Homo sapiens: one gene and its partner. The protein of the gene in region 2 purifies or fractionates together with the protein of the main gene of each other region. This does not show direct contact. Each region holds a gene or a part of one and is shown on either strand. Other genes may lie near its edges.

What was found. Proteins that work in one complex are often made in the same cells at the same time.
Region 1: the proteins of KRT17 (region 2) and DLAT purify together in Homo sapiens (affinity purification with mass spectrometry, with the first as the bait; one large-scale study listed by BioGRID). This does not show direct contact.

Annotation. Positions count from the first base shown.
Region 1 is NC_000011.10:112,038,908-112,042,407, reverse strand, and holds part of DLAT (dihydrolipoyllysine-residue acetyltransferase component of pyruvate dehydrogenase complex, mitochondrial isoform 2 precursor), read right to left. Parts: intron 3,165-3,500; coding exon 3,011-3,164; intron 1-3,010.
Region 2 is NC_000017.11:41,621,776-41,625,787, reverse strand, and holds the start of KRT17 (keratin, type I cytoskeletal 17), read left to right. Parts: upstream 1-1,212; 5' UTR 1,213-1,278; coding exon 1,279-1,710; intron 1,711-2,755; coding exon 2,756-2,838; intron 2,839-3,276; coding exon 3,277-3,433; intron 3,434-4,012. UniProt on the Homo sapiens protein: Type I keratin involved in the formation and maintenance of various skin appendages, specifically in determining shape and orientation of hair. Required for the correct growth of hair follicles, in particular for the persistence of the anagen (growth) state.

The sequences.
Region 1 (3,500 bases), on a different chromosome or scaffold from region 2:
TCTCCTTTGTAAAAGACAGAAACCATAACCTCCCCTTACAACCAAGGCTGATCTAGACACCACAGTCCCTCAAGAGGAGGAAATCCATAGTACCACCTGCCTTATGCTAAGCTTCAGCCACCCACAAGAATTTCCTGACTTAGGAGTTAGTTGAAACCTTGTAAACCCTTTTCCCTATCTCTCTTGGGCGGCACAACAGGCCATCATAAAGCAATATGGTATAAAGGGAACAACACTGGACTATGGGTAACAAAAAGTAGGGATCTTGTCAAACATAAACTATATAAACGTTTCATCCATTTCCATGGAGCAACCAAAATGATCTTTTCAAAACATAATCATTTTATTTCACTTCTTTGCTTAAATTTCTCAATGGCTTCCTCAAGTACTTTAAATAAAATTCAAACTCTTTACCATAATCTATAAGGTCATTTATGTTCTCATCCCTGTTTTTTTCCAATCTCATCTCCTACTAGACCCTTTGCTCATTATGCTTCATTAACACTGGCCTTTTTTTTTTTTCTTTGAGACGGAGTCTTGCTCTGTCGCCCAGGCTGGAGTGCAGTGGCACTATCTCGGCTCACTGCAAGTTTGGCCTCCCAGGTTCACGCCATTCTCCTGCCTCAGCCTCCCGAGTAGCTGGGACCACAGGCGCCTGCCACCATGCCCAGCTAATTTTTTTGTATTTTTAGTAGAGACGAGGTTTCACCGTGTTAGCCAGGATGGTCTCCATCTCCTGACCTGTGATCCACCTGCCTCGGCCTCCCAAAGTGCTGGGATTACAGGCGTGAGCCATTGCGCCTGGCCAACACTGGCCTCTTTTATGTTCCTCAGACATGCTAAACTCTTTCCCATTTCAGACTGTGTACAGCTAGTCTCTCTATCCAAAATGATCTTTCCCCAGTTCTTCACATGGTTGGCTCAAGCTGCCTCCTTCTTATCTTTCAAAACAAATCAAATGTCACCTCATCAAAAAGATCTCCCAACCAACCTGTCTAAAAGTAGTCATGACTGCACATATATCCATTCACCCTTTCACTCACTAGTATATCACTGAGTTTCTTTCTTTCTTAGCACTCAAATCATCTTATTTAATAACAAAAATATTATTATCATTATAGCTAATACCTAGATATGCTTTCTCTGTACAGGCACTGGTTAACTTATTTAAACCTCACAACCATTAAACCTAATGTTTTTATATACAAAGAAATTGTGACACAAAAGGTCACACAGCTAGTATAAAGAGCTGAGGTTCATACCCAAGCATTCCAGCTACAGAGCTCACACTCTTAACTACTATGCTATACTCCCTTTCTGTTCATTTAATTCTTTATTGTTGGTCATATAAGCAACTGAAACTGAAATCTTATCCATCTGATGAACAAGTGTCTGATGTGTAGATAGCAGTCGATGATATTTATCACCTAACTCTGCCTGCATAGTAAGAACAGTGGGATTTTCTTTCTTTCTTTTTTTTTTTTAACACTCCTCTCAGCTCATACCTAAGGGATTTTCCACTTATATCTTTAGTAAGGTAACGAGTATTGCTGAATATCTAATAAATGGTCCTTCTTTGCTTGTCTAAATTCTTTAGATATAATTATTAACCCAGTCCTTTCTCCCTTTAAAAGTTACTCCAACTTACACTGCTGTCCCTGATTCTAATCATATATACATATATGATAGCAATATACTACTGAAATGGCATTAAGATGGAAAAAAAAGAATCTTCCAATATTACAAGAATCTCTGAGGTCCAAAAAATTTACAACATTCTACTCTTGTGTCTTGGGATTGGCTTGACTTCTAACTACAAGATAGCAAATTGCAGATACGGGATAACCACCATTGAGTACCCATAACTAGAAAATTGGGGAAATAAGCATATTTTTCTTTAGTAATTATGGATGGCAGAGCATCAAAACAGAAGGCAGGATAGGGTAGTGTGAAGAAACAGGCTTTAGAGTTAAACAAATCTAGAGTTACACTGCAACTTTACTATTTAACAGGAAGGAAGAACCCTGAAGAGTCTGAGAGTCTGTTTTCTTATCCAGAAAATAAGGAATGATAATTCTTACTTCAAGAAGTGTTGTGTACATTAAGTATGGTAAGTTAAATGACTGACACATAGTACAAGCCATCAAACCAAGTTCCAAGCATAATAACTTCCCCCCATTCCAAATAAGTACCTTAGTTATCCTACACTAAATTTTAGCTTAAGTTTAATTCAAAAAAACTTATTTAAGCACCAGGCAGTAATATCAATATGAATGACAACTAACATGTATTGAGTACTTATATGCTAGATACAGTTCTAAGCACTTCACCTGTTATAGCTCATTTAACTCTCACAATCTATACGATGTACAGTACCTCAGTTTTACAGATAGAAAAGTAATTGACATAAGGACATACAATCTAAGTAATTCACTGGAAAACATATTACATAGAAAATTATAAAGCCAGGATTAAATGCTAGGTGGTCTGATTCCAGGCCCCATGCTCTTATCACAAAGCTATATTTTTTCTTTGGCGGCAGACAGACAAGTAAGGCGTTTTCCCTTGCCTTCAGGGAGCTCTAGTTCTGTTTTATATGAATTTTATTAAGTCATTCCAAATCACCCCAACTTCAAATTTTATTTTGCTTTGCTTATTGCTACAGTCAACCAAGCACTAACAGAGGTTTCTTATTACATAATCAAGTCCCATAACCAAATTTTACATATACTTTCACCAAACAAGCAGTTTCCATGAATAGAAGAGGAAAAAAAAAGGTATCTAAAGTGTATGGGTAGATTCTAGGCAGAGTAAATAAAGCTCAGTAAAAGTTTCCCTACTCTGTGGTGGCAACAAAAGAACTATTTCTCCCTTCTGAAGGAATTATTAATGATTGTCCCTACTATCCCAATTATAAGTACGGCTATACATAGTTGTACTTGCAAGTCTTAAGGAGGAAATTCAACTAAATTTTAACTTTATAAAGTCCATTCTATAGAAACAGATTTACCTTTTACTTGTGTAAGATCAATCCCTTTCTCTACTGCCAACTTCTTTGCAAGAGGGCTAACAAACACCCTTCCCTTTGGTCCAGCAGGAGTAGCTGGGCAGGGTGCTGAAGGTGTAGGAGCTAAAGGCTGGGGAGTTGGAGGAACAGCGGCCACCTTTTGAAAAAAAATTACAAATTGTTTTAATTCACCACTTCAAAGACTGGTCTGAAAGATTAAAAGTTTACATCTTATTAATAAATTAAAACTATTTTAATTAAATATTAATAACTTTCATTTTTCCAAAGATCATAATGTACTTTTCGCCAGCTTAACCAACATAATGTAGTAATACGAACAGCGAGAACAATATACTTCTATATCAAAGACAGAACAGTTACCTTATTCCATAACAACATGAAGCACAGAATTGAATATTGCCAATCAGTGTATAGTATTCTACAGCCTTTCTTCACTTTAATCTCTTACCACTTCTTTATTCGCATTCTTTTA
Region 2 (4,012 bases):
CACTGGGCTATTGAGGAATGTCTCTCGGCTGCTGGCGGGGCCGTCTGGGCCTGTCTGGGAAGTGGAAGCCATCGGCAGTCTGAAACATGACCACATTCCACCCAGCGGGCCTGGCGGGACCCTGGGACCCAGGGCCGGGCTTGGGGTGGTGGGCAGGGCAGGGTGGGGCTGTGGGGTGGGGCACATGGCCCACCTGAGGAGCCACATCTTGGGGAGCCTGGAGTGGGAAGGGGGCTGGCTGGGGTCTCTGTAAGAGCCTCTTCTTGGGCAATGTCCTTTAGGTTTCCTGTGGGCTGAGACCTGAGATAAATACCCGTCACCTGACCCTGAGGTCTCTTGGGGTACAGAAGGGTGAGGGGAGTGGAAGGGGGCATCCCCCTCTCAGTTGGCACAGCCCACCATTTCCCCATCCTATAGCTGAGCCCCTGTTTGCCCACCCCAGCCTGGAGTGTAAACCTGGGGAAAGGTTTACACGAAGAGACTGGGTTAGCAAGGATTTCTAGGGATGGGGCAGGGTCAGAAGCTGACTGGATGGAACTGTAGCCCCTAGAGTGCATTCCTGGGTGTCAGGCTCTGCAGAAGGGGCCAGTGTGGACACGGCACCCCTCTGGAGCCCCAATTTCTTTATCTGTGATGTGGGTTGGTCTCCGAGGCTTGATGGCATTTCTATGCTGTGAGGTGGGCCTGGTGGGTTTGGGCTCAGTTTCCAAGGCAGGATAGGCTCTCGGTCTCCTCTTTCTCTTCAGCACCCAGCCCCGGGGCCAGCACCGTGGGTGGAGCAGTGTGGGGTGAAAGACAGCAACTTTGGCGGGGGGGTCAGCTGACACTGCAACCCATTTCCCCACCAGACAGGGTTGAGGCGGGCCAGGCTGGGGTGGTGGCTGCCTGGGAGGGCCTGGGGACGGTGACGTCCTGCCTTCTCCTCTTCTCCGTATTAGGTCATGGGAAAGCATAGCTGGAGGGCCCGCCTGAATCACAGGTGACGGGCCTGAGACCAGAGGCACGCACACGCACGGCACTCAGCACGAGGATTTGGAGAAATGAGGCAAATTCCTGATGATGGGCGGGGAGGGGGCCCCCAGCCACCTGGGAGCTGGCAGGTGGCCAGTGGTGATGAAAGCCCAGGGGAATGGAAACAGAGGAGCAAGCCTGTTGTAATCGCTACGCCCACTTGGTGGCCTATAAAGGAAGCGGGCGAACCCCGGCAGCCCTACACAACTTGGGGCCCCTCTCCTCTCCAGCCCTTCTCCTGTGTGCCTGCCTCCTGCCGCCGCCACCATGACCACCTCCATCCGCCAGTTCACCTCCTCCAGCTCCATCAAGGGCTCCTCCGGCCTGGGGGGCGGCTCGTCCCGCACCTCCTGCCGGCTGTCTGGCGGCCTGGGTGCCGGCTCCTGCAGGCTGGGATCTGCTGGCGGCCTGGGCAGCACCCTCGGGGGTAGCAGCTACTCCAGCTGCTACAGCTTTGGCTCTGGTGGTGGCTATGGCAGCAGCTTTGGGGGTGTTGATGGGCTGCTGGCTGGAGGTGAGAAGGCCACCATGCAGAACCTCAATGACCGCCTGGCCTCCTACCTGGACAAGGTGCGTGCCCTGGAGGAGGCCAACACTGAGCTGGAGGTGAAGATCCGTGACTGGTACCAGAGGCAGGCCCCGGGGCCCGCCCGTGACTACAGCCAGTACTACAGGACAATTGAGGAGCTGCAGAACAAGGTAGGGCCTGCTGGTGGGAGGGGTCTCCGGGGGGCATGACTTCTTCCCCCCAACTCCTGCCTTGGCCAAAGGCCTGGAGTCCAGCCATAGGGTCTCAGGGAGCCAAGGGTGGTTTGGCTGTGGCTTAGCTTCTGGGAACCTGCCTTGGGGCCCCTGTGTGGCTCACATCCCCCTTTTCTGGGGACAGCAAGCTGAGTCAGGAACAAAGAGGCCTTGTGGAGCCCCTTGGAGCCTCAGTTTCTCCCTCGTGGAGCTCCGCCACCTGGAGAGGTTGTAGGATGAGGCAGGAGGATGCAGATGGAGGGCTGGGCCCGTGGGCTGCTGGATGTGTGGTGTCTTGCTCCTTTGGAGCAGGGGTCAACAGGAGGGGGTTTTGGGTGATGTGGAGTGGGGGTGTCTGAGTGAGCTCCTGATAGCACCTGCTGCAGGAGGAGGCAGAAAGGAGGGGGCGGGACCTCAGTGTGGGGAAGGCCTCTGATGTGCCTTATTTGGGGATTTTTCTGGCTTCTCCTTTCCTCCTGCTGTCCCTTAAGACGGGCTCAGCAAACCCCAGGGGGCGGGGCTGCTGGCTGGCGCCCAGGGTTAGGGATTAGGAGGGGTCCTGACTTTTGATTTGGAACCACTCTTTAATGAGGGCTCCTTTAGCCTCCTTTTGGGGGAGCCTGTCAGGGGCACCCTCTAGCTGACTGTAAAACGAGGGGGTTGCCCACATCCCCTCCCTTGTTCTAGAATTCTGGGACAGCTTCTGCCCTGGGGACATTTTCCCATTCTTTTCTGGTTGCCTCATACTCCCAGCCAGCTGTCTCTTCTCCTTTAAGGCCGAGCCTGCCATGGGGGTCTGGTGGGGTACTGAGTATCGGGGGAAGAAGAGGCACCTTTCAGCCCTTCAGACTCCTGTTTGCCCCTCCTCTGCCAATAATACAGCACGGGGCAAGGGAGGGGCTGGGCGAGAAGAGAGGCCCTGAGGCAGGAAGATCTGCTCAGAACCCTGGTGTGGGCTCAGCCACCCCCATCCAATGACCTGACTACTCTCCCTTCTCCTCAGATCCTCACAGCCACCGTGGACAATGCCAACATCCTGCTACAGATTGACAATGCCCGTCTGGCTGCTGATGACTTCCGCACCAAGTGAGTCCTAGCTGTGGCCTTGGGCAGCCTGGGCCAGCTGGCGGAGGATCTCAGGGTACCCCTCCTGACCCCAGGATTCCTTGGTTGCTTGTGGCAAGGCCCAGGAGCTCAGGGTGGGGCAGTCCTAGGAGCCCCACTCCTTAGTCCAGGATGCAGTGAAGGCAGCCAGTTCTGAAGGTTGCTGAGCTTAGGCAGGGAATAGAAGAGAAGGAGGGGAGGCGGGAGGCGGGAGGCAGAGAGAAGTAAGGAAGCTGGTGGGCGTGGGATCTGGCCCTGTGATGGTCCCGGGGTCCCGGGGCTGGAATTCGTTTCCACTCGACCCTCTCATCAGCCCTTCCAACTCCTTAGAGTCCTGGCAAAATGAAGGCAGGTGAGCAGCCAGGACCTGGATCTGCAGGTCCAAGCAGCCTGGGCTGAAGTCTCTGATTCCCACGGCAGGTTTGAGACAGAGCAGGCCCTGCGCCTGAGTGTGGAGGCCGACATCAATGGCCTGCGCAGGGTGCTGGATGAGCTGACCCTGGCCAGAGCCGACCTGGAGATGCAGATTGAGAACCTCAAGGAGGAGCTGGCCTACCTGAAGAAGAACCACGAGGAGGTGAGGTGGCTGGGGCAGAAGGTCAAAGATGCTGAGGAGTGGGTGGCAGAGCCCTGGGGCTGGGCAATGGCTGAGGCCGTGGGAGAGAGCAGAGCAGGTGCACCGGGATTAGTCACCTTAGAGGGCTTCCCTGTCTGCAGAGCCCTGATCCTTGGGGTCCAGTGTGCAGGGCAGACTCCTCTTTGTACCACACTGCTTCTCTGTACACAAGGAACCTCCCAGGGGCCTGCAGAGGCTCCCTCTACCTACCCTGCCTCCCTCATGAGGGTGGGGGATAAGTAAGGAAATCTTGTCCCATTTCAAACTCTCAAAGCTGAACATCTACATAGAAGCTTGGAAATTAGAGGGGAACTTTTGGGGGCATAGGCCTAATAATTAGATTTTATTTTGGAGAGTCCTTGGTCTAATGGGGGAGATAGAGTCTGATGGTGGAGGCAATACTGAGCAGATGAATAAAAATCATTTAGAGGGTCAGATAGAGCAGAGGGAGAACAAAGGAGGGGTCCTTGTGGGAAGTGGGGTCCCCTTGTGGGGGAAGGCTTGGGAGTGAGAGGTCAGGATGGGTCCAGATGCGCACAT